7 linked regions of the Homo sapiens genome follow. The protein of the gene in region 3 interacts with the protein of the main gene of each other region in a pairwise test. Each region holds a gene or a part of one and is shown on either strand. Other genes may lie near its edges. The genes, in order: CEP131, ZNF423, CEP290, CEP162, KIAA1328, MAPK10 and CCP110.

Evidence for each region.
Region 1: the proteins of CEP290 (region 3) and CEP131 interact in binary tests that used the Homo sapiens proteins (3 or more experiments, as listed by UniProt).
Region 2: the proteins of CEP290 (region 3) and ZNF423 interact in binary tests that used the Homo sapiens proteins (3 or more experiments, as listed by UniProt).
Region 4: the proteins of CEP290 (region 3) and CEP162 interact in binary tests that used the Homo sapiens proteins (3 or more experiments, as listed by UniProt).
Region 5: the proteins of CEP290 (region 3) and KIAA1328 interact in binary tests that used the Homo sapiens proteins (3 or more experiments, as listed by UniProt).
Region 6: the proteins of CEP290 (region 3) and MAPK10 interact in a two-hybrid assay, tested with the Homo sapiens proteins (one large-scale study listed by BioGRID and IntAct).
Region 7: the proteins of CEP290 (region 3) and CCP110 interact in binary tests that used the Homo sapiens proteins (3 or more experiments, as listed by UniProt).

Annotation. Positions count from the first base shown.
Region 1 is NC_000017.11:81,201,961-81,206,095, forward strand, and holds part of CEP131 (centrosomal protein of 131 kDa), read right to left. Parts: intron 1,648-4,135; coding exon 1,534-1,647; intron 439-1,533; coding exon 280-438; intron 1-279. UniProt on the Homo sapiens protein: Component of centriolar satellites contributing to the building of a complex and dynamic network required to regulate cilia/flagellum formation.
Region 2 is NC_000016.10:49,628,723-49,632,857, reverse strand, and holds part of ZNF423 (zinc finger protein 423), read left to right. Parts: intron 1-4,135. UniProt on the Homo sapiens protein: Transcription factor that can both act as an activator or a repressor depending on the context. Plays a central role in BMP signaling and olfactory neurogenesis. Associates with SMADs in response to BMP2 leading to activate transcription of BMP target genes.
Region 3 is NC_000012.12:88,134,954-88,139,088, forward strand, and holds part of CEP290 (centrosomal protein of 290 kDa), read right to left. Parts: intron 1,834-4,135; coding exon 1,690-1,833; intron 1-1,689. UniProt on the Homo sapiens protein: Involved in early and late steps in cilia formation. Its association with CCP110 is required for inhibition of primary cilia formation by CCP110.
Region 4 is NC_000006.12:84,171,824-84,175,958, reverse strand, and holds part of CEP162 (centrosomal protein of 162 kDa), read left to right. Parts: intron 1-611; coding exon 612-745; intron 746-1,004; coding exon 1,005-1,232; intron 1,233-1,770; coding exon 1,771-1,911; intron 1,912-4,135. UniProt on the Homo sapiens protein: Required to promote assembly of the transition zone in primary cilia. Acts by specifically recognizing and binding the axonemal microtubule.
Region 5 is NC_000018.10:36,831,845-36,835,979, forward strand, and holds part of KIAA1328 (protein hinderin), read left to right. Parts: exon of another isoform or gene 1-1,544; intron 1,545-2,358; exon of another isoform or gene 2,359-2,429; coding exon of another isoform or gene 2,430-2,475; coding exon 2,476-2,511; intron 2,512-3,389; coding exon 3,390-3,532; intron 3,533-4,135. UniProt on the Homo sapiens protein: Competes with SMC1 for binding to SMC3. May affect the availability of SMC3 to engage in the formation of multimeric protein complexes.
Region 6 is NC_000004.12:86,353,119-86,357,253, reverse strand, and holds part of MAPK10 (mitogen-activated protein kinase 10), read left to right. Parts: intron 1-2,609; 5' UTR 2,610-2,724; intron 2,725-4,135. UniProt on the Homo sapiens protein: Serine/threonine-protein kinase involved in various processes such as neuronal proliferation, differentiation, migration and programmed cell death.
Region 7 is NC_000016.10:19,526,508-19,530,642, reverse strand, and holds part of CCP110 (centriolar coiled-coil protein of 110 kDa), read right to left. Parts: intron 2,777-4,135; 5' UTR 2,762-2,776; coding exon 2,621-2,761; intron 1-2,620.

The sequences.
Region 1 (4,135 bases), on a different chromosome or scaffold from region 3:
CGTGGTGGCGGGCACCTGTAGTCCCAGCTACTCGGGAGGCTGAGGCAGGAGAATGGTGTGAACCCGGGAGGCAGAGCTTGCAGCGAGCAGAGATCGCGCCACTGCACTCCAGCCTGGGCGACAGAGCGAGACTCTGTCTCAAAAAAAAAAAAAATTAAATTAAAACAATTATTAAATGGAAATTTCTATCCTCGGAGGTGTGAGCCCCCCAGACCCTGATGCCTGCCCACCTCTGTGTTCTAGGCTCAGGCCCCCCCCCACCGCCCCAAGATCGGTCACCTCTCAGCCTCCTCCTCCGTCACCTCCTTCCGCCTGGGCAAGCCCGTGCTGCCCCCAGTATTGTTCCGGGCTGAGTGGGTGGCACTGGAGACATTCTTCGGCAGCTTCCCAAAGCCGCTGCTCTCACTGCCCTCACAGGTGGCTGCCTTGATGATGTTGCTGACAGGTAAGAAGAAAACACCCTCGTCTCACCGCCCAGGGGAACAGCTCTGCCCACAGGCAGCAGGTGCCCACTCCCGGAAGTCCCAGGACTGAGCCTGGAAGTGGTGCTGGCAGGCTGGCAGCCGGGGCAGAGGGGGACAGCGGCAGGTGCGAGGCCGGCTCTCCCGTGCCACATCCTGGCCTCTGGACCACCTGTGCCCTGACAAGGTCCCACTCACTGGTACCCAGGATAATGAGCTCTTTGCATTTAAAAACTTCTCACTAAAGTTACATTGAGAGGCTGGGTGCCCTGGCTCACACCTGTAATCCCAGCACTTTGGGAGGCCAAAGCGGGCGGATCACCTGAGGTCACGAGTTCGAGACCAGCCTTGCCAACATGGTGAAACCCCATTTCTACTAAAAACACAAAAAAATTCGCTCGGCATGGTGGCGGGCACCTGTACTCCCAGCTACACGGGAGGCTGAGGCAGGAGAATCGCTTGAACCTGGGAGGCAGAGGTTGCAGTAAGCCGAGATCATGCCACTGCACTCCAGCCTGGGCAACAAGAATGAAACTCCATTTCAAAAAAAAAAAAAATTCCATTGAGAAAGTTCCCAAAAGTCACAGGAGTCCAGAGCCTGAGGGACCCCTGAGCAACCCCAAGGCCATCCCCAATCCCCGCAAGACCATGTGGTGGTGGACTCGGGGGCTCCTTTGCCCCGCTCGGTCCACCCCCGCTGTGACGCCTTCTGGGCTCTGCACAAGCCTTGGCTTCCTCCTGGGGGCCCCACCTCAGGGTGAGCCCCAGACCTCACTGTGCCACATCTGGGCTGTTTTCTCTCTGTGGGAAGCTGCCGACCCAAGAACAGAAGAGGGCGGCGGACGTGGATGGGGAGCCCGGTTCACAGCTGCTCCACGCGGTTTTACGTGCACTGACCACGTGCCCTGACCGAGGTTGGACCCCATGCACACTGACCGCATGCCCTGACCAAGGTAGAACCCTGTGTGAACTGACCGCGTGCCCTGACCGAGGTCGGACCCCAGGTGCACTGACTACATGCCCTAACTGAGGTCGGACCCCGCAGCCCCGCGGCCTCCCCAGAAGACCTTACTTGAGGGAGGGGGCAGTCTGGTTGGAGCTCTTGAGCGGAGGCGCCCTCTCCGAGGGGGTGTAGCGGTTGTGCACCATGGTGGTGACGCAGTTGCCCACTGCTCCCTTGTTGCTCCTGCCAGGCCGGAAGAGAGACAGGAATGGTCAGGCCTCTGGAGGGGACGCCTGAGATCTCAGAGCTACACTCGCAGCACGGGCTGGGAGGGAACAAAGGCCTTCAGTGCTTGCTACGTGCTGGCAGCATTGTCGTCCAGTGTCCCCAGGCCCCTTCCACAGCCTGCGCCCTGATGATGGGGTTCTTCCCAGGACAGGAAAGCTGGACCAGGGGCTCCCACGGGGCAGGGGATAGAATCGAGGCATGAACGCTGGACGTGCCCAAGACGGGGGGAGCAGCTCAGGCCAGCAGCTCACAATCAGCTTCCAGAGCAGACTCACAGAAGCGAAGCCCCATCCCACACGACGGATGGAAGCCACATTCTCTGCCTCTGCCCCTCCGCAGACCCGCAGGAAGGCGGGAGGACAGGACCAATACCGAGGCTGACAGGAGGGATGGGGAGACTGCAGGAAAGGGGCATCTGCAGACCTGGAGGATTAGAAACAGAAGGGCCAGCAGAGAGCAACTGGGACACAAGGGAGGGTCCAGGCATTGTGGGGAGGGAGGGCGAGGAGCTGGCAGGTCCCGTGCCCCCACGGAGACACACTGTTCTCCCACAGGCATGGACAGGCTTTGAGGCAAAGGGGAGAATCTGGCTGCTCGGCAAAGCCCCTTCCCTCACTTGAGCCGCTAGCATCCACCCTGCCCTCCCCAGCTGGCCCTGCAGGTGGGGCAGAGATGGGTGATTCACCCAGGACAGCCACCGCCACCCCTCCCCAGCAGTGCAACCGGGCAGCCAGGACTCGAACCCTGGGGCGGGCTGGGGGTTTGTCTCTGGAGAGACTCAGCCTGTGAGGAGGGTCCCACAGACACTGGTAGGTGGGGATACTCAACAATGCCTTGCTCTCTGCACCAGTGCCCCGAAGTGAAGCCACCAGGCAATAGGCTTCCAGCTAACTCCTAGGGCCTCCCTTTTAACAAGAACCACCAAGACATCTGGGCAAAGACCAACATGTCAGAGGCCCAAAATCAAACCAACAGAACATGATGGGAATGAGGATAAGCAGAGAGCAGAGCAATGCACGAAACCTGCTCCTGCACCAGCCTGCACCTGCACCGGACCACACCTGCACCAGCCTGCACCTGCACCGGACCACACCTGCACCGGACCACACCTGCACCGGACCGCACCAGGCACCAGCCCACGCCCAGCACCAGCCTGGCCTGCACCTGGCACCAGCCTGCACTCACAAACGTTCAACAGCTGGTTCTTGGAGCGCGGCTCATCTGCCAATTTGGGTGGTGTGAATAACCTACCAGGACTGATTTTGAGCTGTTCAGGAATGAGCAGCATGGCATGTATTCATAAATGTTTTCAATAAAACACTAAATGGCCGGGCGCAGTGGCTCACACCTATAATCCTAGCACTTTGGGAGGCTGAGGCGGGTGGATCACAAGGTTAGGGGTTCGAGACCAGTCTGGCCAACATAGCGAAACCCCGTCTCTACTAAAAATACAAAAATTAGCCTAGTGTGGTGGCACACGCCTGTAGTCCCAGCTACCCAGGAGGCTGAGGCAAGAGAATCACTGGAACCCGGGAAGCGGAGGTTGCGGTGAGCCGAGATCACACCACTGCACTCTGGCTTGGGCGACAGAGCGAGACTTCGTCTCAAAAACAAAAACAAACAAACAAAAAAACACCAGAAGAAATAGCTTGAAAAGATGCTGCTCCTCAGGGGCAGGCGCCAGGGGTAGGAGGGGCGGCAAGAGTGTGGGTAGGAGGGGCAGCAGTGGGGTAGGAGGGGCAGCGGGGCAGTGGGTGGGGGGTAGGAGGGGCAGCGGGATGGGGGTAGGAGGGGTGGGGGGGTAGGAGGGGCGGCGCGGGGGTAGGAGGGGCAGCGGGAGGGGAGGTAGGAGGGGCAGGGGTGGGGAGGGTAGGAGGGGCAGCACATTTTAAGCCTATGGTGCTGTTTGACATTTTGGCTGTGTATGAACATATAACTGATAAATACTAAGGTAAATTTTAGGACCAGGTGTGGGGGCTCAAACCTGTAATCCCAGGGCTTTTGGGGAGGTCAAGGAAGGAGGATTGCCCGAGCCCAGGAGTTTGAGACCAGCCTGGGCAACACAGCGAGACTTCATCTCTACAACAAATTTAAAAATTAGCCAGGAGTGGTGTTGTGCACCTGTGGTCCCAGCTGCTCCGAAGGCTGAAGGGGGAGGATCTCTTGAGCCCAGGAGGTAGAGGCTGCAGTGAGCTATGATCGTGGACTCCAGTCAGGGTGACAGATGAGAACCTGCCTCTAACTTAAAAATAAATTAAAAAGCAAGAATTGAGCTGGGTGCAGTGGCTCACGCCTATAATCCCAGCACTTTGGGAGGCCAAGGCGGGTGGATCATGAGGTCAGGAGATCGAGACCATCCCGGCCAACATGGTGAAACCCTGTCTCTACGAAAAAAATACAAAAATTACTCGGGCGTGGTGGCGTGGTGGCACGTGCTTATAAT
Region 2 (4,135 bases), on a different chromosome or scaffold from region 3:
CTAGAGCCTCCAAAGCCTTGGGCTGTGTGAGCCTCCCTGGAGTGCTCTGCATCCGGCATCAAGCACCACTTTGTGAAAGCCCCTACTATGTGAGTGGTGCTCTGCTGGGCACCAACTTTTAGGTCATCTCTGTAGCAACAATCCAGGAACCTTGCTGTGGCCTGTGTTTTGGTAAAGAGGGGCTCCAGCTCAGAAAGGTGATGCCATATACCCAAGGATGCACAGCTGTGCGCGGCTGTGCAGGGACTGAAACTCAAGGGGACCGTGTTTCCTGGGGGCCCCCAGGCCTTCCTCTCCCTGCCTTTGGGCCTTGTGTGAGCAGGGATGAGCTGAAAATCATGGCTCTGCCTGCCTGGAGGCCTGGGGAGATGGGCCATTGCAGAAACAAAGCCCAGGTACCTCCCCAGGCAAGGCGGCATTCTCTGGGGCCTTGCCCCCTGTGTGGGCACACCTGGGGACAGGGGCCCAGATGTCAGTTAGCCCACCCCTTCCCTCCCTGAGGACCCACTCATGTAAGAACAGACTCTGGGGGTTTCACAGGGGCTTGGGGGCTGGCAGGCTGGGACCCTCGGGAGTGTATCCATAGCAACCAGCTCTCAGAGGACTGGGTTCCTGTGGGGCTGAGGCTGCTGTCGGCTGGAGCATGAAGCATTGAAGTTCCACCTCCCCCTCTGTTTATGGGTAATGACAACATCACCCCAACTCGAGACCAGCACGGGCAGACCCTGGCCATCCATTGATCCTGCAGATCCCCACGGTGCCTTTCTCTGCTAGGTGGGACAGGCCAGGTGTTCTCATACCCATTTTACAGCCAAGTAAACAGATATCAAGGTTAGAGGGCCTATCCAGATCCCACTAGCTTTCTGTCACCTAGACCAGGCCTGGCAGGAGATCTGGGACATGGAGCTGAGAATGGCAGCTCAGACAGTGGGCATCGAATTCCAGTTCTCCTACTCACCAGCAAGAGGCTCTGACCAAGTGATGCAGCCTCTTGAAACTCCACTTACCCCATCCCTAGGGTGGAGCTTGCAGAGGGTTTGTGAGTATTTAGCATAAATGCTGCCCACACATGGCAAGTGCTCAGTGAACATTGGCAGTGCTCACGATCATGGAAATATAACAGCTCTGGCTGGCTTTTCCTTCTCTCCTTCCTGTCTTGAAGGGCCTGGCCATTTCTTCCCTGCCCTCCCTCTCCTGTCTTTGCCATTCTCAAGTGTGTTTTCTTCCTGCCCGGGGCCCCCCTCTGCAGTTGCTCAGGGCTGTGTTGGGGGAGGCAGCCCTGGCCACAGGCCCTGGAACTCAGCTCTAGTTCTCCTGGGCTGGGCCCCAGGGAAGGGGCTTATGGCAGGGGAGGTGCTTTGAGTGCCAAGTTCTGTCTTTCTGTAATTATATCTCCTAGTGGGGGCTGAAGCTGCAGGAGGAGGGGGTCTCCAGGGGGGTTGAGAGTGGGGATAGACTAGGAATAGATGTTGGGGTGAGGACTGGAGTCCAGCCATGCTTGGAGGGTTTGGGGGCTGGTGAGCCTGTGTGTGTATGTGCCTATGTGTGAGTGCACATGTGAGCACTTATGAGTCTACATGTGTGTACATGAGGGTGTGTGGTACGTGTGGGGATGGGTCTGTGTGTATACTTGTGTCAGAAGCTGCATGCATGTCTGTGGGCGTATTTGGGAGTACCGGTGTGTGTACTGGGGTTGTGGTGAGTGAGCTGAAGGCAGGGTCTCTGGATGAGTGTGAACATGCCCATCTGTGTGGCCTTGTTCACCCATGTGGATGGCCCTGCTTCTCTGGGGGTTGCACATATGTATCTGTGTTACAGGTTGCTGTGTGTAGGGGTTGCGGGTGTGTCTGTGAAGGTCTTGTGTGTTGCTGGTGAGTTGGGGTGAAAGTGAGCATGTGAATGCATACGTGTGCTTGCACATCTGTGTGTGTGTCTTGTGTGTATGTGAGGGGTCAGCCCTTCTCCCGGCCCTTCCCTTGGGAACCCTCTGAACCCTATGAAGCCCAGTGCCCCACCAGGAGGGGCTCAGTTATTGGGCAGTGTTCTTCCTATTACCAAGGGGTGGCAGAGAGGCATTTGAGGGCAGCCTGTTTTCCTGCCCAAGCCCCTGGGGATGTATTTTCCAAGCACAGTGAGCTCCCTTTATTCACCTGCCCCTGAGAAGATCAACCAAGTCACTGTGATCATGGACTGTTCCCTGCATGCCTCTGGACCAGCCATGGCTGCAGCCTCTAGAGACTTGCACCCAAGCAAATCGCCATCCTTGGAGGGGGGACGTGGTCATCTGCCCGCAGCCATTGCTGCTGGTTGGTACCAACCCCATCCTCCCACCCACCCACCTATAGGCCTGGGCGGTCCTCATCCAGCAGGCCTCCCATGGGCTTCCTTGTGATGAAGCTTCCCTTCCTGGGATGTGCTTCATTCATTAATTCACTCATTCCATTCATTCGTTCATTCATTCAACCACCAAAGGCTCTTGCACTTTGCCAAGCAGAGTAGGTGGGGGCACATGTGAGACAGAAGGGATGGTTTTGATGCTGGAGACACCCGAGGTGGTTCATCTCCACGACCATGGCCCTGGAGTTGACCTGAGATGTGTACTCTGGGCTGCATCTCCTGAGAAGACCTCAGGCCCTGTAGTCTCCTTGTGGCCTAGACGTCTTCCTTTGTCTGTGGCAAGGCTGGACTCCCCAGCCCTGTCTTTCTCTCCACCCTGCCCCCGACTTACCTAGCTCTTCCCAGGGCCTTTCCATGCAGAGTGCCTGTGTCTGGGCCCCAGGCTGTGGCCTGTACTCAGGACACAGCGAATCCCCCAGGTCTTCTGAAACACTGTGGGAAAGGCCCCTGGTTTTGTCAGAGCAGGTCCTGGAGCCTGACGCATCCAGCTTCAGCTTCTCCAGTTGTTTCTTCATTCATTCATTTGTTCAAGCAGCATTTTCTTAGCGCCAATAATAATCGTAATAAAAGTTAAATAATTATTATGCACTGACTCTAGGTAAGGCCTGCGCTAGGGTGGTGTGGGTCCAGGACACTGAAGTCATCTTTGGTTCTCTTTGTCACCTCTGCCTGAATAGACTCCTCTGCATATGTTATTCTGCAACTTTATGTGTTCAGCAAATGCTTGTTAAGCACTTCATGTGCTGCCTCAAAGGTAGACAAAACACATTCCTGGCTCTCTGGGTGCTCATGGTGCAAGAGGGGAGCAGATGAACCAATCCACCCTGACACAACAATGTATTAATTACCCAGGGTCCTTTAGCATAAGTTCAGGGATGTGGAGGGGGTCCTGGACCCATTCTGGGGTGAAAAGAGAAGTCTTCTCAGAAGAGATGACATTTGAATTGAGTCAAGGATGGAGGGGGTGTTGCACATAGAGGAACCAGCACAGGCAAAGGCCTGTAGTTACTTAGGGAACTGTGGGTGTGGGTGGAAAGAGGGAAATAGGAACAGAGAACAGGTAGGATAAAATAGAAATTAATTCAAAAGATGGTAGGATTTAAAATCAACCATATTGACAATTACACTAAGTATAAATGGAGTTGAAATTTCAATCAAAAGGTAGAGATTGTCAGATTAGATGCAAAGAAAAAAGCAAGACTCAATTGAAAGCTATCTACAGGGCCTGGACTATAAATATAAAGACACAGGTAGGTTAAAAGTAAAAGGAAAGAAAAGTGTGCACCATGCAAGAGCTCATCATAACATTTCAGAATGATAAAGAGGGAAGTAGGAGCTGAGATGGTTAAGCTACCTGGTGGTTCATCTGGCTGCATAGTTGAGGGTTGGGCCTGGGACCTTGGCCAAGAAGTGTGAAGTCCTGCTCCCTTTTCCAGAAGTAAGAGAAGCCCTCTCATCCCAGGAACCAAAGTGGTCTTCAAAAAACTTGGATATTGTGATTCCAATACCACCCCTCTTTCTTCAAAAAACCCCACAGCCACAGTCCTTCCCTCAGATGGGCAACACCACCTCTGTCCCTGGGGTGTTTCAGAACCATCTGGGATTAGTTGTGTGAGTGAGGTTCACTCTTTGGAACAACTCTTCAAGAAGCTTTGAAGCTTCTCATCTCAGTTTTTCTGCCCTCAGCTCCCACAGGCAGCTGGTACTAGCCCCTGTGTGTGGAAACCAGCTGTAGGAA
Region 3 (4,135 bases):
TCTCAGTTTACAGATCACATCCTGCACCTCAAGGCTGATTACGGTATCTCTCTCCAGAGTATGCCAGAATATGACCTTATGTATCTCCCTAAGTATCATATTATCACTATGTTATGCTTATTATTGACTATGAATATTCTTGAGAACCAGAACATAGTTGCCCACTATATCACTAGTAACTAGCAGCCTCTGGTATGCTGTAAAGACTCAATAAAACTGAATGACTGGTTAACGGCAAAGAAGTAATTGCCAAAGCAACCCATACCCATATTTCATCTCAAGGAATTGAGCAGCCAAAAAGGAACACAGGCCATATATTCAAGTTTTCTCTGTGTGTGACTATGAAAAAAGACAATAGTCTAAGATATAAATGGACAAGGTAGTTCTGATTAGCTAAGGGTGTGTGGTATGAATGATAAGTCAACTGATACAGGTCTATATAGAAGAACAAAAGTCCAGAAAACCACAGACATCCCCCTAAGCAATTCTACCAGTGTATATTATAAGTTAGATCCTTGATGACTATTAAAAAATCCACATGTCTGCTATGTTTTGCAGTTAGCTAAACAGATAATGCTCTAAGAGCTTCTTCCTAACATTTAAGTGGCATCGATCCATACTTTCTCTACCACATTGTTTTCATAGCTAACTTCTATATGATTCTTCAACATTTTAGAGTAAAATACATACATGAAGAATGGGGATACTTTTCCTTACAAATCAATTTATGATACATTCTCTTAAATAGCATATCATTGTTTTCTTAAAATGTATGACCCTCAATTTCTGAGAGAACAATGGACAAAATAAAATAAATGGAATATAACACAACAATGACCTAAAGGACACAAAGGTGGAAAACGTTTCTGAGTATAAGGGACAGGACAGTTACCACATGTAGGCACCAAATTTTACTAAGTTTACTAACAGTTCAGGTGAAATAAAAAACAAATAAATGTTAAGTAAATAAATAAATAATACATTAAATAGGAAGCTGAGGTAAAATAGGAAATTTTCTTCCAGGAAATACAAGTTGATCTGCAAAAAACTTTTTTCCTAAAACTAAATTCAAGTGAACACTGCAAGAATTATTAGTTTATAACAAGGAATAACGAGGTAATAAAAACTATGCATTAAAAATGTTATTTTAAATATGTGATTTATAAACTGCTGACATGAACACAACTTTTCAAAAACTATACATATATATATATATCTCACATAAAATAAGGTACAACCAAAAACAAGATATTTAATTAACCATTATTGAATATATCGAAAGATTCATTTGCGAATCTACTAATCATATAAATACATTGAAATGAACAAATATAACTTTTACCCAAAATAAACTATGGCACTAGAAAGATCACTTCTTTATGAAAATCTATTAGTTACTTGATACCAATCTTCCAGACAAAAGCATTAATTTTAGGTAACAAGTTTGATGTCCTGAGAAAAATGTACTTCCAAATATAAAGAATTAATCTTCAAGTCATATTCACTAGAAGTACCATTATATTTTAAAATTGGTGATGACAAAATGAACAGTGATATAAAACCTTAGAGATAAGTGTACATCATTTTTCAAATATAACATACAATATAAAAATTGATATTGTTACCAATAATAATAAAAAGCCAGGTAACTTGAACAGTGAAGATTCATGGAAAAAAAAAGTGCTTTACTTGCTCATTAACTTTCTTCTCTTTCTCCAACTCCTTTTCCATGTCCTCCAATTCTCTATCTTTTTGTTCTAATTGTTTTTCAAGTTGGCAAATTTCATTACGTAAAAACCGAGTATCTCGTCCACCTGCAGACTGCTGAGCCATCTTAAAGTAATAAACCCAAAGTATAAATTAATCCCATTATATTTTGAGGTTCAAATGAGTCAACAACAAGCAAATAATTATGCTGAATTTAAATTTGCATTATACTTCAGTGCAGATATTTAAAATCATATTAGCTTAAGAACTTTTTTTTTTTTAATTTAACTTACTTAAGGTTAGTTCACAGCTAATAACTCCTTAAATTTTTCCTGAGCCACCCAGAGATGCAAAGAATTGACTGTTAATCATTCTGTTGTAACCACTGGGCCACAGGTAACCAGACTAAACTGCAAAGGTTCCTGAGCCTCAGGGATCTGGAACCTGAGTACAAACCATCAGAATCTCCACCCCAGTCAGTGAAGCTGAGTGCCTTAACCTGCCCTTTCTCTCATACCATGCACTGTTTAGACCAGTGCTGTCCCATAGGACTTTCTAGCATAATGGACATGCTGTCAGTGCTGTCCAGTTCAATAGCCACTCGCTACATGTAGCTATGTTCGGGCATTTGAAGTGTGGCTAGTGCAACTGAAGAACTAAATTTTTCATTTTAATTTTAACCAATGTAAATATAAATAGCTACAAGTGGTTAGTGCTAGTGCTACCATATTAAACAGCTCAGGTTTTGGTTATCTTAAGATTTGTAGCCGATTAAATCCATTTTACCTCACAGTCTTGTTAATTCAGGTCATGGCCAAGAACATCAAATCATTTGGTCATCTAATGTGTCTCACATTCATTTCTTCACCTTATAGTTCTGTTATTCCTCTACCTTAACCAAATTGTTCTTACTCTTTCTCTCCTCCAAAAAGCATTCCATTGTGCTCTCTAAAATTCTCTTCCAAGATAAATTAATATTTCACATCCTCAGATTCTTTACTGAATCCTCCTTTCCATCTCCTTGGCTTAGCTGCAATTTGGATCCTTTAGTATACTAATGCCCTTGGAACTCTTTCAATTGGAAGGTGCTCATTCTTTCAGATTCCAAATACATGAGGGTCAGAAGAAGGTGTTGGTGCTTCTAGGTTTACCCCACCCTGCAACTTCAGGTGATCATTCCTATCATTCCTCCATCATCCTATAGAAACTTCAGCTGCTTTCTCACAAAATATCCTGCTCTCCATCTTTACCTACTCATGGTAGAAACAAGCCACCAACCTTCCAGTAACTCCGCAAAATGCACTGGGAATTTAAGCATGTGGCCCACAGATGTCTATCAAATGCCCACTAAGCAATCTCCACATAACTTTTGTTCTAGTCTATTTTTTTCTTGAATTCACTATAGTCTCTCACTCCCACACCCACATCAGATCCTTGTCCAACCAGAACATTCTTTCAATTATTCCCACTATGCCTGTCCTTCGACCTCACAGGACACTCTAACCCCTCATCTTCTCCCTCCATATCCCTACCCTTCTGCCCACCCAACCCCAATCTTGATTTTATCTATTCAGTTAAGACTTCATAATCATCACTTCAACCACTTTCCTACCAATATCTTCAACTGTGCTACCCTTCTATTCTACAGCAGCTACCTAGCTAAACACTAACACAGAACTGATCCAACTCCATAATTCATTTAGTATTTATTGAAAGTGCTTGGCATTTTCCCAGGAGCTGGATATACAATCAAAAACAATAGGTCATCCAAGTTCAGAGAGTTAACGAGTAGAAGAATCAGGACTAGAACTCAAATCTGTCTGACTCCAGATCCCCAACTCTCCAGTCCTGTCTCCAATATATTTCAAATTTTACCTAATTTCCTTAAAATGTGACCACACCATTTCCCACTCTTTTTAACAGAAGATGTCATCACCAACCCCTCAACTTCCAAGCATTATGCCTACAAACATAAAAGCCTCTATACACATCCACTCTTCCCACGCTCATCCACTCATCCTCCTCTCCTAACACAAAGGAAAAGGGTATTCCTCCTTTCAAAGGCTGATCCATTTGTATCACATTCCTACCTTCTCAGGAATCTCAATGTATTTTGTTCTTCAACAATACATTCATATTTTAGCCTTCAGCTTTGTCAAAAATTACTTCTATAACACCCTTTCGTCACTATTCCTCAAATCCCCACCCACCCTCCACCTCAGTTACTAGTAATCTTTCTGTATATTTCCCAAGACTATAAGCTCCATCCAGCAGTTAACTTCTTATTTTGTTCACAACCATATGCTCAGTCCTTAGTACTATATAAGGCACATAATAGGCATGTAGAACATATACAGAATAAACAAATAACCATGATTACAATCATCCTTATAATTTTTCCAGCCAACAATAATTTTAAAATTTGAAA
Region 4 (4,135 bases), on a different chromosome or scaffold from region 3:
ATTGGAACAGAATATATATTAATCACTTTTTTTATAATTTAATATATATTGCCAAGTTTTTATAGCAGAGTTAATCTTTTAAAATCTGATTTAGATTAACAATTATAAAATCCTCCGTGCAATTTATATTATTCCATTGATACTATAATATCATGATATACATTGTTTATAAAAAATGTGCTCTGAAAGCACACTTAGTCCGCACCAAAATGTTTCATAATGTTATCAGCTGCTCCTTGATTTGTCATTTAGAAATTTTGATTGATTATTGCTATGAACATTTAACAGAAGAATTTATTTAAAACTAATAAACTCTGAAAGTTATTTCTATCCACATTCTCACATTTATTTAGCTCCATTTGTCAATTGACATGAGTCTTGGGTTAATTGGCCATCTGTGTCAAATTTAGTAGAATGTTGATTATGGAGTGGCAATCTTTCTGAATGCAATCAGTTATAGTGAAACAGCTGTGTTATAGTGTAGTCCATCAGCCTATTCTGAGATCCTCATTTTTGTGTTTCCATTGTATTTTTAGTTATTGGACACAATTGATGAGTATACATTTAACTTTACATTTGTGGTGCATTTATACATTGTTTATAATATTTAGAAATCTTATCTGGAACAAAACTCATCAAGCCTGCAGCTTTGGATAAACCAGCTCACAAAACTGAAAGTTGCCTGTCTACTCGTAAGAAGTCTGAAAATCCCACAGAAACTGATTCCTGTATTCAGTTTCAGACTGTAGGTATTCAAAATTAATAATCATAATGTTTTATGTTCTAAAATTATATTAAAACTAAATTATATATAACAAAATATAATAAGGACTGAAATGTCTTTTCCTTTGAGTGATACTGTAATCACTCTTACTAAACAGTTAATTTTCTTATATAATAGAACATTATTAACCATGTCCTTTTTATTCTTTTTTTAATTAACCACCTGTGTTCAAATCTTATACATAAGTCTACTGTAATGAAGTAATGCTTTGTCTTGAAAGGATTCCTTAGGATACTGTGGTGAGAACAAGGAGAAGAAATTACTTATGTTTAAAAGAGTTCAGGAAGCAGAGGATAAATGGAGGGGTGCGCAAGCCCTAATTGAGCAAATTAAAGCCACATTCTCAGAAAAGGAGAAAGAACTAGAAAATAAGTTGGAAGAACTAAAGAAACAACAGGAAAAAGAACTCTTCAAATTGAATCAAGATAATTATATTCTTCAAGCCAAGGTACTAGATACATTGTTCTGGTATTTTTTTATATTTATTAAAAAAAAAAAAAGCTGAATTCCCTGCTAAATACATTGTCATCCTTGGTTCCTAGAGATGTTTGACTTGATGTATTTGCTGTATAAAATATAGAATGGTTCCAAGAGTGATTCCGTACATGAGAGCCTAAATTTTGAACCCTTGGGGGAGAAAATTAAATTTAAATTGGCTCATTTTTATGGTTTTCTTCTGTTAGCAGTCCTTTTTAAAGAAAATCAGTTCATTCTGACCTTCAAAGAAATGAAAGTTTGAGCAAGAACTGCTATAGAAGGTATAGACCCAGAGGATGACATTGTGTAGCATTTGTGAGTTCCTTTACTCACCCAGCACCATCAGCACAAAACAGCACTTTGCTGATTTAACTAGTTATGTCACATTCTAATATGTTCAATATTATAAGACAGTTTTCGATCTAAATAGGAGTTTCCTGTTATTCTTTCTCACTTCTCACCTTATCATTTCCTTCCCCAAATAAAACAATTTCTGCAATTTCTCCAAGTTAAGCAGCTTTGAAGAAACAAACAAAAAACAAAGGTGGTTACATTTTGGAGAAGCAGCTGATCCTGTCACTGGAGAAAAGTTGAAGCAAATCCAAAAAGAAATACAAGAACAAGAGACACTTCTTCAAGGATATCAACAGGTATGGCAATTCTTCAACATATGGCAAATTTACTCTTGATCTTTTAGTTATAAAAATAAGGCAGGCCAGGCACAGTGGCTTATGCCTGTAATCCCAGCACTTTGGGAGGATGAGGTGGGCGGATCACCTGAGGTCAGGAGTTCGAGACCAGCCTGGCCAACATGGTGAAACACCATCTCTACTAAAAATAAAAAAAATTGGCTGGGCATGGTGGCGCACACCTGTCATCCCAGCTACTTGGGAGGTTGAGGCAAGAGAATCGCTTGAACCTAGGAGGCAGAGATTGCAGTGAGCTGAGATCACATCACTGCACTCCAGCCTAGGCAACAGAGTGAGACTCTGTCTCAAAAAAAAAAAAAAAGGTATATTAAAATACTTCTCTGCTTATTTAACAGATAATGGTAATCCTGGCAAATAGGAGATAATAATTTGACTAGTCTGTGTATTTCTCATGAGGAGAATTAAATGGTAAAAGCATGGGTTCTGGATTAGAAAAATGTGGTTTTGAGTCTTAGCTCTACCACCTGCTGTGTGCCTTGGGCATCACTTAATCTTTCTAATCCAGTTTCTTCATCTGTGAAGTGGGGATAATAATATATAGGATCCCTAACTTCCACTGGTTTGACTTAACAAAGTTTTAATTTATGATGGGCTTATCAGGATGTAACTTCATCGTAAGTTTTACTTACTATTTTTTGACTTTACATTGGGTTTATCAGGGTATTAAGTGCATTTTCAACTTAGGACATTTTTTACTTACTTTTTGGCCTTATTGGGATATAGCTATTTGCGGGGCAAGCAAGTTGAGGAGCATCTGTACACTCTTAGTGTGACACACAGCAATCGATCAATGAAAGTTACCTGTTATTTTTAATAGCCAGTTTCTTAAAAACTGTCCTATCTTTTCTTAGTTTCCTGTAATGCTCTTCAGTAGACAGTATTGGCTGGTTTTGCTATTATATTCAGAAATATGAATCTGAAATTAATTGCTAATGCCCTGAGGGTGAAAAAATTTTGAATTTAATGCAAGAAAATCTTTGGGTCCTATAGAGGCAGATGTTTGCAATGTGTAATGACATCTTGGTATCTTGGTGTTGCTAGCCTGACAGTCAACCAGGACAGGTTTAGTTATCTTCAAATCAACATAAGACTTTATCTTTGTTCTGTGCCTCCCACACCCTTTTTTCTTACTTCTCTCCTTTCTTGTCTCTCATTACATTCTTCTCTTTTGACAACTGTAACTTGAACCTTGAGCCTTAGTAACATGCATTATCACCCAGGGACATCATCAAAAGCATTGCCCCATCAATGATTACAATGTTTGCTGTAACTGAATTGGAATGATTTTGCAGGACACACTGCCTTCAGTTACTGGGAACCATTCAAATTCTTCTGCCAGTTTGATCTTGCCATTAAAAAACAGAGGTTTTTAAGAAAATTTAACAGACCCATAAGTATGCCGACCAACCCCTCCAACAGAGACAACACAAAATTTATGTGTCTAAATAGTAGGGGGAAATGTTTGTTAATTCTTCATGTATTTAAGCACAGACTGTCGCCAGGCACTATTCCAGACATGGTAAAACAGTCTATAGTTTGCATTAGATACTCAAAGCCCTTGGTTTGCATCTGATTTTTAATTTTAAACAGGTTCATAAGCCAGGGAGGGCATCTAAGTGCAGATTGGCACCATCTCTTCTCCCTCTGATCTCAACTGGTTGAGTCACTCTTTAGCTCTTTAGCTCAAGCCTTGTGGTGAACTGGGTCTGTCCTCTGCTCTGCCTTGTCCTGACAACTTTCAGAAACACCGGTCTTTAACTCCCTGTTTACAGTCAGTAGCAGATACAAGTATGAGCACCCGTAGGTACATCTGATTACCTCACCACTGGCAGCCAGACTTCCAGAATCTTCCTCCAGCAGTGATTTTTTTTTTCCCCTCTCTTGAGCCAGAAACAGAAAAGAATGTAAAGGGTCTCACTGGGTCTTTCCACCCGGGTCCACACAGTCAGGATGTGGTGATTCCTTCAGCCACTCTCCCACTTACCTCCTGTGAAATGCAGTGCATTAAACTGACCTTAGGCCCTTTGGCTTTGGGAATTTTGCAAATTATTTTTTCAATTAGCCATTTTAAATGTTATGGAAAGAACTGTTTTTAGACACCAAATTTTCTTCAGATATAATATAAAAAGTTTAAAAAAGACTTTACATACGCAAAAGCTAAAGA
Region 5 (4,135 bases), on a different chromosome or scaffold from region 3:
TCTCTACCACTTCTGCCTGGGTTTCTAATTACAGTTAGCCCTCTGTATCTGCTGATTCATTCAAATGTGGATGGAAAATATTTGAGAAAAAAAAGAAATAGCACACAAAAAAATACAAATTAAACTGTACAATTTAACTACTATTTATATAGCATGTACATTGTTTTAGGTATTATAAATAATCTAGAAATGACCCACTAGTAGGCCCACTATACATTTGGTATATAATGTGTCTGTTTGACTTCCCCATAAAATATACATTTGTTGGGAAATTCTAGATTTGAAGGAGGTAAATATTTGGGTTCTTAATATAATGAGATGAAAATACATTACAAATTATTAGAAAGGATAGAGGCAATTTCAAATATTGTTATTAAAAATATTGAAGTAGTTTGTTTAGAGTTTTATATATTTGAAAATAAATTTGTCATGGATGTAGCTGAAAGTAAAAGGTTTTGTTGGCCGCTTGCGGTGGCTCACACCTGTAATCCCAGCATTTTGGGAGGCCAAAGCAGGTGGATCACAAGGTCAGGAGTTCAAAACCAGTCTGGCCAACATGATGAAACGGCCGTCTCTACTAAAACTACAAAAAAAATTAGCCAGGTGTGGCGGCGGGCACCTGTAATCCCAGCTACTCGGGAGGCTGAGGCAGAGAATTGCTTGACCTAGGAGGTGGAGGTTGCAGTGAGCTGAGATCAAACCGCTGCACTCCAGCCTGGGTGGCAGAGCGAGACTCTGTCTCAAAAAAAAAAAAAAAAAAAAGTTTTGTTTGCATATTTAGAATCACAGAAATATAACATATAAGGTTGTTGGACAACACCTCATAAAATTAAATCAATACCAATTTTATTCTTTCATAGATGGAGCCAGACATTCTTTTATGTTTGAGGGTACAACACTGAACAAAATAAAACAAAAATCATTACCCTCTTGGTGCCTACATTTTAGTGAGATGAGATCAGGTCATGAATAAGGAAAATATATGTTCAATGATTTTTTTTTTTTTTTTTGAGTCAGAGTCTCGGTCTGTTGCCCAGGCTGGAGTGCAGTGGTGCCATCTCAGCTCACTGCAAGCTCCGCCTTCTGGGTTCACACCATTCTCCTGCCTCAACCTCTGGAGTAGCTGGGACTACAGGCACCCGCCACCATGCCCGGCTAATTTTTTTTTTTTACATTTTTAGTAGAGACAGGGTTTCACCGTGTTAGCCAGGATGATCTCGATTTTCTGACCTCGTGATATGCCCACCTCGGCCTCCCAAAGTGCTGGGATTACAGACGTGAGCCACTGCACCTGGCCTATGTTCAATGATATTGGTGCTGTGGAGAAAAAATAAAGCAGGAAAGAGGCAGATAGTAGCGGGAGGTAGGTAGGTTGTGGGAAGAGAGAGTTTTGCAATTTCAAGTACCTATATGGTTAGGAAGTGAAAGCTTCAATCAGAAGGTGACATGACATGACATATGACATAAGTCCTAAAGTGAGCCATGAAGATATTTGAGGAAAGAGCTTCCTGGGTAGAAGAAATCATACCTGCAGAAGCTATAAGGTAGGAGCTTGCATAGCTTGTTAACAATTATAAGAAAGCCAGGAATGAGTGAGAGGAATAGTAGCAAGTGAGATCAGAGATGTAACAAGTTACAGGGATCAGATCTTGAGCATTGCAGGCTGTTGTTAATACTTTGGCTTTTAATCTAAATTAGAAATGACATAACTATTAAAATGATCATTCTAACCACTGTGTGAAAAAATAGGCTGTTAAGGGAACATGCACAGAAGTGACAGAGAGCAGTTAGGAGCTTATTGCAATAATCCTGGGAGAGGAAAAGTTGAGTTGGATCAAGGTGACAGTTGAAAACAGTGTGTTATAATCATAGCCTTTCTAAATTTCTCCTTTTGAAATTCAAAATAGTTCTTTTTGTCTTAAATTTCTTCTACTTTTTAAATAGTAGGGCTTCTTGGGATATTTTATGAATACACTGTAGAAGAATAAATAATGTCTTTGTGTTTGCATGATTGACTTGCCCTCAGTGTTTGTTCTTCAAAGCTAAAGTCTATCTTGAAATTATTTACTCTTCAGAATTGTCAGTTCCTCAGTAATGACCAAACTGGAGCACTTAAGTTTTTGTTTACAAAAGGAAAGGAACCTAATAGTAGAGTATATATTGCAGGGTAACCCACTTGAGAGTGGATAAAAGTTTCATGGAACAAGACCTTCCAAGATTTTTATAAGATGTGTAGTTGTGAATATATAAAGGTGAACTTTTAGAGAATATTAATTTTGCTACATTTAATTCAATTACTTTGCTTTCTAACTTTGTTTTTAATTCAATTACTTTGCTTTCTAACTTTGTTTTTAAAAGTTAGTTACAAATTCCCAGGTCAAAAGAAATTATGAATTATAAGAGGTATACAGAACAGAAGCAGCATTTGGATGCCGGATAATATTATTGTATTTTCCTTCATGTTCTCCTGCGTAGTTTCTGATGAAGAACAATCAGTAGTATACGTTCCAGGTATGATTTTCTATGTTAAAATTTGGGAAGCTTACTTTGGTCCTTAAATGTTAGAAGAAAATAAAGCTATTAGAACAATGTTGCGGGTATAAATAACTGAATGCAGAGCAGTACATCAAAACCTAAAATTTGTTTTTTTTGAATATTTGTCATAACCCTATTAAGGTTTGAAATACTGGCTTATCTTTGGGATTGGCTGGCCCAATCAGCTTTTAATGAACTTGTAGAACACTTCATGTGGCAAGGGGCAAAAGATTCTTTTCTTATTTTTTCTTTTACAAATGATAGCCAAATTTAATATTTCAAATAAAAGTGTGACTACTGCTTGATACAGGGTATATGTAAGAGGCACTTCAAGTTTAATGGTTGTAACTAGATGGTAGTAAAGCAACTATTGAAGGCACCCTCATTATATAGGGTGAAAAATATCATTGATTTCCCCTAAGTTAACATATATTTGGCATATCGTAATTTATTGGTTTTAATGTGACTTATGAATATTTACAGTACCCTTTACAAATATTTCAGTTAAGCTGGATGTGGTTGCTTGATCCTGTAGTTCCAGCTACTCCAGAGGCTGAGGTGGGAGGATTGCTTGAGCCCAGGAGTTCAAGTCCAGCCTGGATAGACATAGGAAGACCCTGTCTCTTTAAAAAAATAAATATAAAAACAAATTTCAATTCAATCTTTAGTGTATTTCTTTAAAACATATTCTTTTTATGATTCATATATTAAGAGCTTTAAAATTAAGTTTATAAAGTAAGAGAGTTTCCTCCATCAGGTCCCTTAAAGTAGAGGATTCCAAGGAAGGAGTTGATGGGGGAGGGTTTAAGATAATAAGGTATAATTTTGAAATCTTGTTTAATGGAAATCCTTAGGAATTTCTGCTGAAGGAAATGTCAGATCAAGACACAAGCTGATGAGTCCAAAAGCTGATGTTAAACTTAAGACTTCCAGGGTGACTGATGCTTCAATCTCCATGGAGTCCTTAAAAGGCACAGGAGATTCAGTAGATGAACAGGTTAGTATTTTTTTCGTCTTTTTTTTTCCTTGCTCTCCAGTCTTTATGAGTGCTGACCAAAAAGGGTAGAAGAACCTTTGAAAGTATACTAGGTGATCAACAAACATTCTTAAAAGATACAGAGGATTCCAGGATCCTTTGATGATGCCAGGTTTGAGCCTAAATTATCTGGATTACTCAAGGGTTTTGCTCCAAAACATCTGACTTGCTGTAAGCATTAGCCATGATAATGTATTATCTTGATATGTCTCAAAAGAACTACATTCTGATCTGTGTGGCATTGGTAAATCAAACTGATGAGAATTGCTTTTTAATTAGGCATCCTTTTTGATTTTTATTCTTGTGAATTTATTTGATAGATGAACCCTCGTAAAGATGAGGGACAAATCAATGACTAGGCATAGTAATAGTATCGGTGCATTCCTTTGGCACATGTCCTATCTGACCAGTTTATTTTACTTTAATTTTTGTTATATTTTCCCTCTGCAACCAGAGTTGTTCAATACCACTTCACACTCACTAGGATGTCTACACAAAACTTGTATATGAATGTTCTGGAATCTATAACCTGTGGACCAAATCCTTCTGCCTGTTTTATAAATA
Region 6 (4,135 bases), on a different chromosome or scaffold from region 3:
CATGCTCTAGTTCTGGCCTCAGGTCACATTTGTAGCCAAAGGACTTTCAGTGGAATTGGTGTGTTCAAATCGAATGATTGCTTGGTTGCTTATCAGAATAAAGGACTCAAAGCAAGAGAGACTTCCTTCAATTAGAATGAGAAGCAAACACATTGTTGTCTTAAATTCTTTCTTCATTGCCCTTTCTATTTCCTCTTACAGTCTCTTTTAAGCTTTTGGTTGGACATTGCAACAATCATGCAGAAAGAGGCACGGAAGTGTCCAGTAGTGACAAGAATGGAGTACAATGCTCTATTTGCTGCAGGACTGCTGAGTGCCTTCCTCCTACCACACATGCATCTATTATTGCACCTTCTTCTGAGGACCAAGGACTTGTGGAAAAAGTTGGGCCTATAGACTAGTAGGGGAGATGCTTACTGGTAAAGAAGAACAGAATCCATTTGCTTCTTTGGCATATTGGATATATTTATTGCATTACATAAGCCTGAGATGAGACACTGTACTGCTGATTCAGATAAAAAGATCATGCTGCATATTGATTGTTTAAAAAATGTAACTTAGAATTGGAGCCCATCTTTTCAGAAACCTGTACGTGTTTGCAGAGTGAAGTTGTAAGGTTTTGACTCAAGATTTTTCAGTTTGAGTACATTTTATCCTCATGAACCGATCAAGGCAAAGAAGGGGAAAATACAAAACCTGTGTTTTGCATATCTTTTGTTTTCTGTATTTAATAGGGAGAAGCTGTATTTCTTATTGTGAATCTTGGTAGAAACTCTTAAGAGGAGACATCAGGTAATATTGAAAATCACTAAATATAAACATTTTAGGTTTAAAAAGTAGACCTCACACATATACTATTTCTGGTAAAGGATTTTCTAGTTTATTTGATGTTTTGGATCCATATCAAGCCACTATGGCTTTTCTTACAGTTCTTATCTCTGGTGACTATGAGATGTAAAATCCTTGAGGCTTATGGAAATAATGCTAGTAGGAATGGAAATTGAAGTTTTCAATGGAAAAAGAAATGAATACAGTCTCCTGAGAAGCATCCCTAACCACAGCTGCTCTAAAACCCTGCATGGTGTGCAGGTTTAAGGCAAAGCTTCCCTATAAGGCAATTGGGCATTTGCAGTGACCTGCACAGTAATAAACAGGATTTTCACTACCTTGTGTTTGTACACGTGTGTGTGTGTGTGTGTGTGTGTGTGTGAAGAAAAACAAAAACAAAAACAGCAGTGACTTTAAAGTTCTAGAAATTCATCTTAGTGACTTGTCTTCATAGAAATAAAACTGACTCCTGTTTGTCTGTGTTAACCTGCCTGGGTGCCCTATGTGCTTTCTGAAAATGGATTGCTTAAAGCAATTGTCCTCTTCTTATACATTGGAAATAGGATCTGAAAGCATTGATAGTGAAGGAAAGCTCTTAGGTTAGGTCTGTTTATTTGGCAATGTTTATTCAGTGTTTGTAGGCGGAAGCTCCAGCACAGCATTTATATAATATAGTAATTGCCTATTCTTCTATTACCTGTATTCTCTACTAAGGTTTAATCCCCATCAGGGACTGACTTTTTCTGTTTGGCACACAATAGGGACACACCAAATATTCATTGAATGAATATCTCTCATGTACTGAGTTCTCTGCTAAGTGCTATGGTAGAAAAAATTGGGAAACTGTAACACAGTTTCTGCCATTTGGAACCTATACTCATTTGGGAAGATGAGGCTAAATAACAATAAAGATGGTATAAAATCAAGGGCCCATATTAGTGTTTTGATAATGAGTGCAATAGAAATTCAGAGGAGAAAGGAATTTACCTCCTCTGAAGTGATGGTAGGTGACAATGGGGCTACACTGGGGTGTTGGGGTGAGGTGGTGGGATAGTGAGAGGGTGGTAGTCCTAGGAGTAATTGTGAGCACCTGGGCAGGAAAGAAACTCTTACTTGGGGTAAAGAGGAGGCCTATTTTGGGTATGATGACCATATTTTCCAAACTAGAAATAAAAACTTATGGTTTGACATTGGGTAGAATGTTGCAGACTGCCACATATTCTGAAGAATCTTGTCTAATATAATGTTGGGAAGTAACAGGCTATAATGGTGAAAAAGTAGGTTAGTAACTAGAAGAACATAAATACAGGTCTCTTCAGATGAGCTCCAGCTTAGGTTTACTTTCTTTTGCATACTTCAGAGGTTTTCAAAATTCTCCTCCTTTATTGGTACCTATGTAACCATTGTTCCAATGAAATCTTGTATGAAAAGCAGAATATGTAAATCTATGTAATAGTGGAGCTGTCCCAGTTGAGGATGAGTGGGGTGCCTTGTATTAGAAAACCAAATTCATATCACAAGACTAATTATATTAACTGAAATAAGAATTACTAATTTAGTTTATGCTCAGATATTAAAATAGTTGTTCTGGTATTATAACATCAAAGTTCTTGTGCTTGCAATAAATGATGAATAGAGATAATTACCTTGAGATATTTTCTTTCCTCTGCCTACACTCACCCACCCAGTAACCAACTGTCTTTGATGTCAGCTTTTTGGTTTTCTAAATACAAATTTAAATCTTAAAATCAAACTCATCTGTTTTTTGGCTTTGCTTTCAGGCTAGTGTGAGAAACACCAACAGCAGGCCCATCTCAGATCTTCACTATGGCAACTTATGCAAGAAACTGTTGAATTAGACCCGTTTCCTATAGATGAGAAACCATACAAGCTGTGGTGAGTTGCCAATTTAAAAATATTCCTTAGCATGAAAACTAGGATCTATATAGCCAATTTAAATATTGCATATGGTTTTGTACATGGAGCTGGAGAAATACTGCTCCAAATAATTTCGACTACAGAAGTGAAAATCAATAGAACAGAAGTTTAATAGTTGGTGTGGTACTACTAATACCACATACAGTAGTGAAAAGTCTTGAGGTGCATGGGTGCAGCATATAACACCATGATACTACCACCATGGATGATACCTGCAATTAACATTTTCATGTGGCAGAGTAACAGTTGGGTACCATTATTTTTAAGTGACTTTTATTATTTGCAACATTGTACTATATTTTACAGATTCATCTCCTTTAGTAGAAAAATTGGTTCTGAGCTAAATTATGGTTTTCTTTCAGGAACACACACACACACACACACAATTTAGCTCTTCTGAAATAAGAGAAGAGAAATCACAGTTTTATAAAACTCAATTCATGGGCATTTTAGCCTACAAATCCTTTTGCTTAACAAAGCAATGTTAAAAATAGATACAGTTGCTCTGCCTAGTTGGAATGACTTTAAAACTTATTACTTTATAAAAATATCAGCACACACAGGTAGAATGTCTTTTTAAATCAAATACTTGATGCTTCATAGTCACCAAAGTCAATAATCAATAGATTCCAGCAGAGATGAACGAGTTATAATCTGTCAAATAACATCTTTGAGAACTAGAGTATGACTGTGGTGCTTATAAGACTCCAAAAGAAGCTATTTTGAGCTAGTGATCAATATCTTTCTTTCATTTGCCTAGTGGCTTATATAACTGTAGATAGGTAGGCTGCCCTGTGAATTAATGCACAGCCTATGACTGCGGAAGACTGATGAAATTAATCCTAGAGTTATTTCATATAGTGAATTTATAAAACAATTCATAAAAAACAATCCATCTACCATTATATTGAGAAAGCAGATCTAATAGCATCACTATACTGTGCTTAATTAACATGTATTCAATGAGCGTTATAAATAATTTTATGCAATTGCCAATAACAAACTATTTTTGACCTAAAATAAGGGCAATTTTATATGGTTGAAACTAATATATTATGTGTTACTCCCAGTGATGTAGAAAGCATACCATGTTCTCTCCATTCTGAATATTAATTCATTAATCAAACTCTTATTGAGAATCTGTGATGTAGGTAGAATGTTTAGCTTTTGGGGCAGATAAAAGACAGTCCTTGCTTTAAAGGAGCCCTCAGTCTAAAGAGTGGGGTACTTACAATAAAATGTGCTTATTAATGGAGGTAGTTGTGTTCTAAAGAGTGTGGCACTTACAAAGTGCTATTACATGGGTAGGTCTAGAGTGCCAAAGGAAGTGCATCAGAGGAGACTCTACCACGGATGTGGTAGAGATTAG
Region 7 (4,135 bases), on a different chromosome or scaffold from region 3:
GGCTCGATCTCGGCTCACTACCTTTGCCTACTGGGTTCAGTGGATCTTGGCTCACTGCAACCTTCGCCTCCTGGGTTCAAGGGATCCTCCTGCCTCAGCCTCCCACATAGCTGGGATTACAGGCATCCACCACCACGCCCAGCTAATTTTTGTATTTTTAGTAGAGACGGGGTTTCGTCATGTTGGCCAGGCTGGTCTCAGCCTCCCAAAGTGCTGGGATTACAGGCATGAGCCACCCCGCCCAGCCCTATCTTCAAAGAATTCCAAAAATCTTTAACCTGTTTATCAAACTTCACTTCCAGTTCATAGGAACTACAGGGACTAGAGAAACAAGTTAAATAACACTATTAGGAAACAATGGGACAAATCCAAGATCTAAGGAATTCTACAAGACAATAGCTCTGGTCTCTTTAAAAATTCAGTATCATAGTTTTGTTATTTTTTTAAAGACAGTATCTCACTCTGTCACCCAGGTTGGAGTGCAGTGGCATGATCAGGGTTCACCGCAGCCTCAGCCTCCCGGGCTCAGGTGATCCTCCCACCTCAGCCTCTAGAGCAGCTGAGACTCCTGGTGCGCGCCACCACACCCAGCTCTTTTTTGTATTTTTTGTAGGGATGAGATTTCACCACGTTGCCCTGACTGGTCTCAAACTCTGGGGATCAAGCAATGCAATCCACCCACCTCAGCCTCCCAAAGTGCTGGGATTATAGGCGTGAGGCACCATGCTCAACCAATAAAAAAAACTGTTTTTAAGACGTACAGTAGCTATTTTAGATTAAAATAAAGAAACATAACAAGCAAATACTAATTGTGAACTTTGGATCCAGATTGGGGGAATAAAGTTATAAAAGGCATTTTGAGCACAAATGGAAAAATTTAAATATGAACAGAATTATTAGATATTATTAAAAATTATTAGTTTTCTTAAGATGTGATAATGGTATTGGGGCTTTACATAGGAGAATGTCCTTATTTTTAAGAGATGTACACCAAAATATTTAGGGGAGCAGTGTCAGGTCTCCGTGGTTTTCAAATAGCTAGGCAATTTTTAAAAATGTCATATGTACACACACACATAGATGTATATAAAAATCACAAACACAATAAAGCAAAGATGACAACAATGTTAAAAATTATTTAATCTAATGGTAAATCTATGGGTGGTCACTGCACTATCCTTTCAACTTTGCTGTATGTTTGAAAGTTTCATTACAAAAAGTTGGCAGTTAGCTCTGGTGTCTTTAAAAATTCAATTCAATTAATTAAAATTAATCTCTTAACTCCTGTTATACCAAAAAATAAATTTAAAGCTCACTTTTTTCTAATATTAGTTTGTGATTTAAAATAAAGTCATATGCATTTTTAAAATATCCAATTAGTATCAAAGGGTGTATGATGAAGTGTCTTCCCTATTATCCTATATTCTCTCACCACTCCCCAGAAAAGGAATAGCCATCCTTTGAAAAACCCAAATGGTTAACTTATATTGGGTACCTCTTATGATCCAGGTGGTATTCTAACCATTTTATATCTACGAATTCATTTAATCTTCAAAATAGCCTTATGAGGTAGGCACTATTTTATCCCCATTTAACAAATAAGAAAATGGACCACAAGTTTACACAGCAAGTAAGTAGCAAAGCAATGATTTGGACCCAGGCCAGAAGGCTCCACAGCCTAGACTTTTTTTTTCCTTCTTTTGGGATAGGGTCTTGCTCTGTTAGCCCAGGCTGGAGTTTTTTTCCTTCTTTTGGGATAGGGTCTTTCTCTGTAGTCCAGGCAATGATGCAATCCTGACTCACTGCAGCCTGCAACTCCTAGGTTCAAGCGATCCTTCCGCCTTAGCCTTTGAAGAGCTGGGACTACAGGCACATGTCACTGCGCCAGGCTAATTTTTTAACATGTTTTTATAGAGATGAGGTCTCACTATGTTGACCAGGCTAGTCTTGAATTCCTGGTCTCAAGCAATCCTCTTCCTTCCGGTCTCTCAAAGCATTGGGACTATAGGTGTGAGCCACTGTGCCTGGCCCAGAGTCTGGACCTCTAATCATGACTCTATACTGCCCCTGACAGCATGCTGCACACGGTGTTTTACACTAGATCATTGAGATCCTTCCATGCCTCAACATTTACATCTGCCTTACTGTAATGGTATGTATGAGAGTTTATAAAATAGACCATAGTTAAACTACTCCACTACTGATGGACATTTAGGTGGTTCGTCAACCTTTGCTATTTTAAACAATGCTAATGTAACTTTGTACTTATTTCTTTGGGCTCACATATAATTGTAGGATATACCCAAAAATGGAACTGCTGACCCAAAGGCTATGTATGCTTTTAAATTCTACCAAACTGCTCATCTAGAAATAAAATAAACTGATTCTCTTAGCAAAAGTGCATTAAAAGTGCATTTTCTCCACAATCTAAGGAACACAAAGTTCTATTAGGTCTTGGCCAATCTATAATAGTAAGTAAAAAATGCTAATTCATTTGTATTTCTCTAATTCTGAATGAGGGCATCTCTTCAAATGTTTATAAGCCTTTCTTTTGTTTTTCCACGAACTGTTTTAGTTGTTCACTACAGAAAAAAACTATTTAAAAACAAAGCAAGTTTACCAGTGGAGAAAGGATAGCCACTCCATGAAAGCGAATAAGTGAGATACTTTCAGACTGAGCAGGGAGAAAGCTCTCTGTGGATAGTGATGCTTCTTGTATTCTGGCAAGACTTTTTTCACAGAACTTCTCATACTCCTCCATCTTCCCACAGTCACACTACAAGAGAGAAAAATGTTATTTTTAATGTACTGGGAAAAACAGATCTTAATTATTTGGCAGATTTTGTAGAGCATGAGAGAGTCCCTATAATTCACAATTCCTATAACTGGTCCTCCCAGAATTGTCTTACTGATCAGGAGCTAATTCTTGGGTATGGTAATTCACCTCAAGAACCTGTCCAATTAAGATTTACTTTATATATTAAATATTTCTGAATATTATTGCATGTAAATCAATCTTTAAATGGGATTAATTTAGCTAAGAATTCAGTAAAACCTTCTTAAAGGAAACAAAGTTCTGTAAATCTTTACTAACTTCACATTGTAAAACAGGATATTATATTTTCTTTAACAGGACTTATCTACACAAGAAAAACTATATCATACAAAGGTACAAACACTGTAGTAAAAAAGCCTACTTAAATCAAAGAATATTTACTTTTAAAAATTTTCTATTTTGAAGTTCAGAGGTTACTCTCATATCTTTTTTTTTTTTTTTAAAGAGACAAGGTCTCACTATGTTGCCCAAACTGGATTCCAGTGACTATTCACAGGTTCAGTCACAGTGCACTATAGTCTCAAACTCTGAGACTCAAGCAATCCTCCTGCCTCAATTTGCCTATCTTAACACTATACTTGGACTGCATGAGCACCAGCCAACTCAGTCAGAGGTAAAAAAGAGCAAATCGATTGGCTCTGATATTAATTATATTTTATTGTTGAAAATTGGAACCATCACCAAACTACTTAAAACAATCCCAGTAATTTCACAGTTTCTGGGAAATTGTGATTATGAAAATACAAGGTAACCAGGAGGGATTAGGCATCATATTCATTCATTTAGCAAACAGTAAATGTTGATTGCTTATTTGCACAGCATTATGTGTGGCACTGTTTCCTTTAAATAAGCAAGGGAAAATAAAAAGACATTATCAGAATCATAACCAGCAAGGGTATGAACTATGGAAACAGAAAATAGAATACAATCATGTTCCTTTATGTCTTCATTTTAAAATAATTAGCTTCTTAACAAAAAAAGAGAGGGCAGGGAAATTCAATTCATGATGTGGGATATGCAAAGATGAAATAGGATATGTCCTCGGTAGGCCTCAAAGTACTTAAAAATTCAGTACACCAAAGTATCAGGGACAAATTATAGTGCAATGAGAAATGGGAAAAAAAAAATAGTCAAAATTATAATCAGGTTATAAAAAAATAAGATATAATGCTATTTTTTCTAAATAGTTTAATCAATAACAAAACTTCTTCCTACTATTCAATCAATTGTAATTATTTGTGTTCAATCTATGCAAAGTAGGAATCTAATGACAAACAAATGGTTCTCTACAGTGTGAGT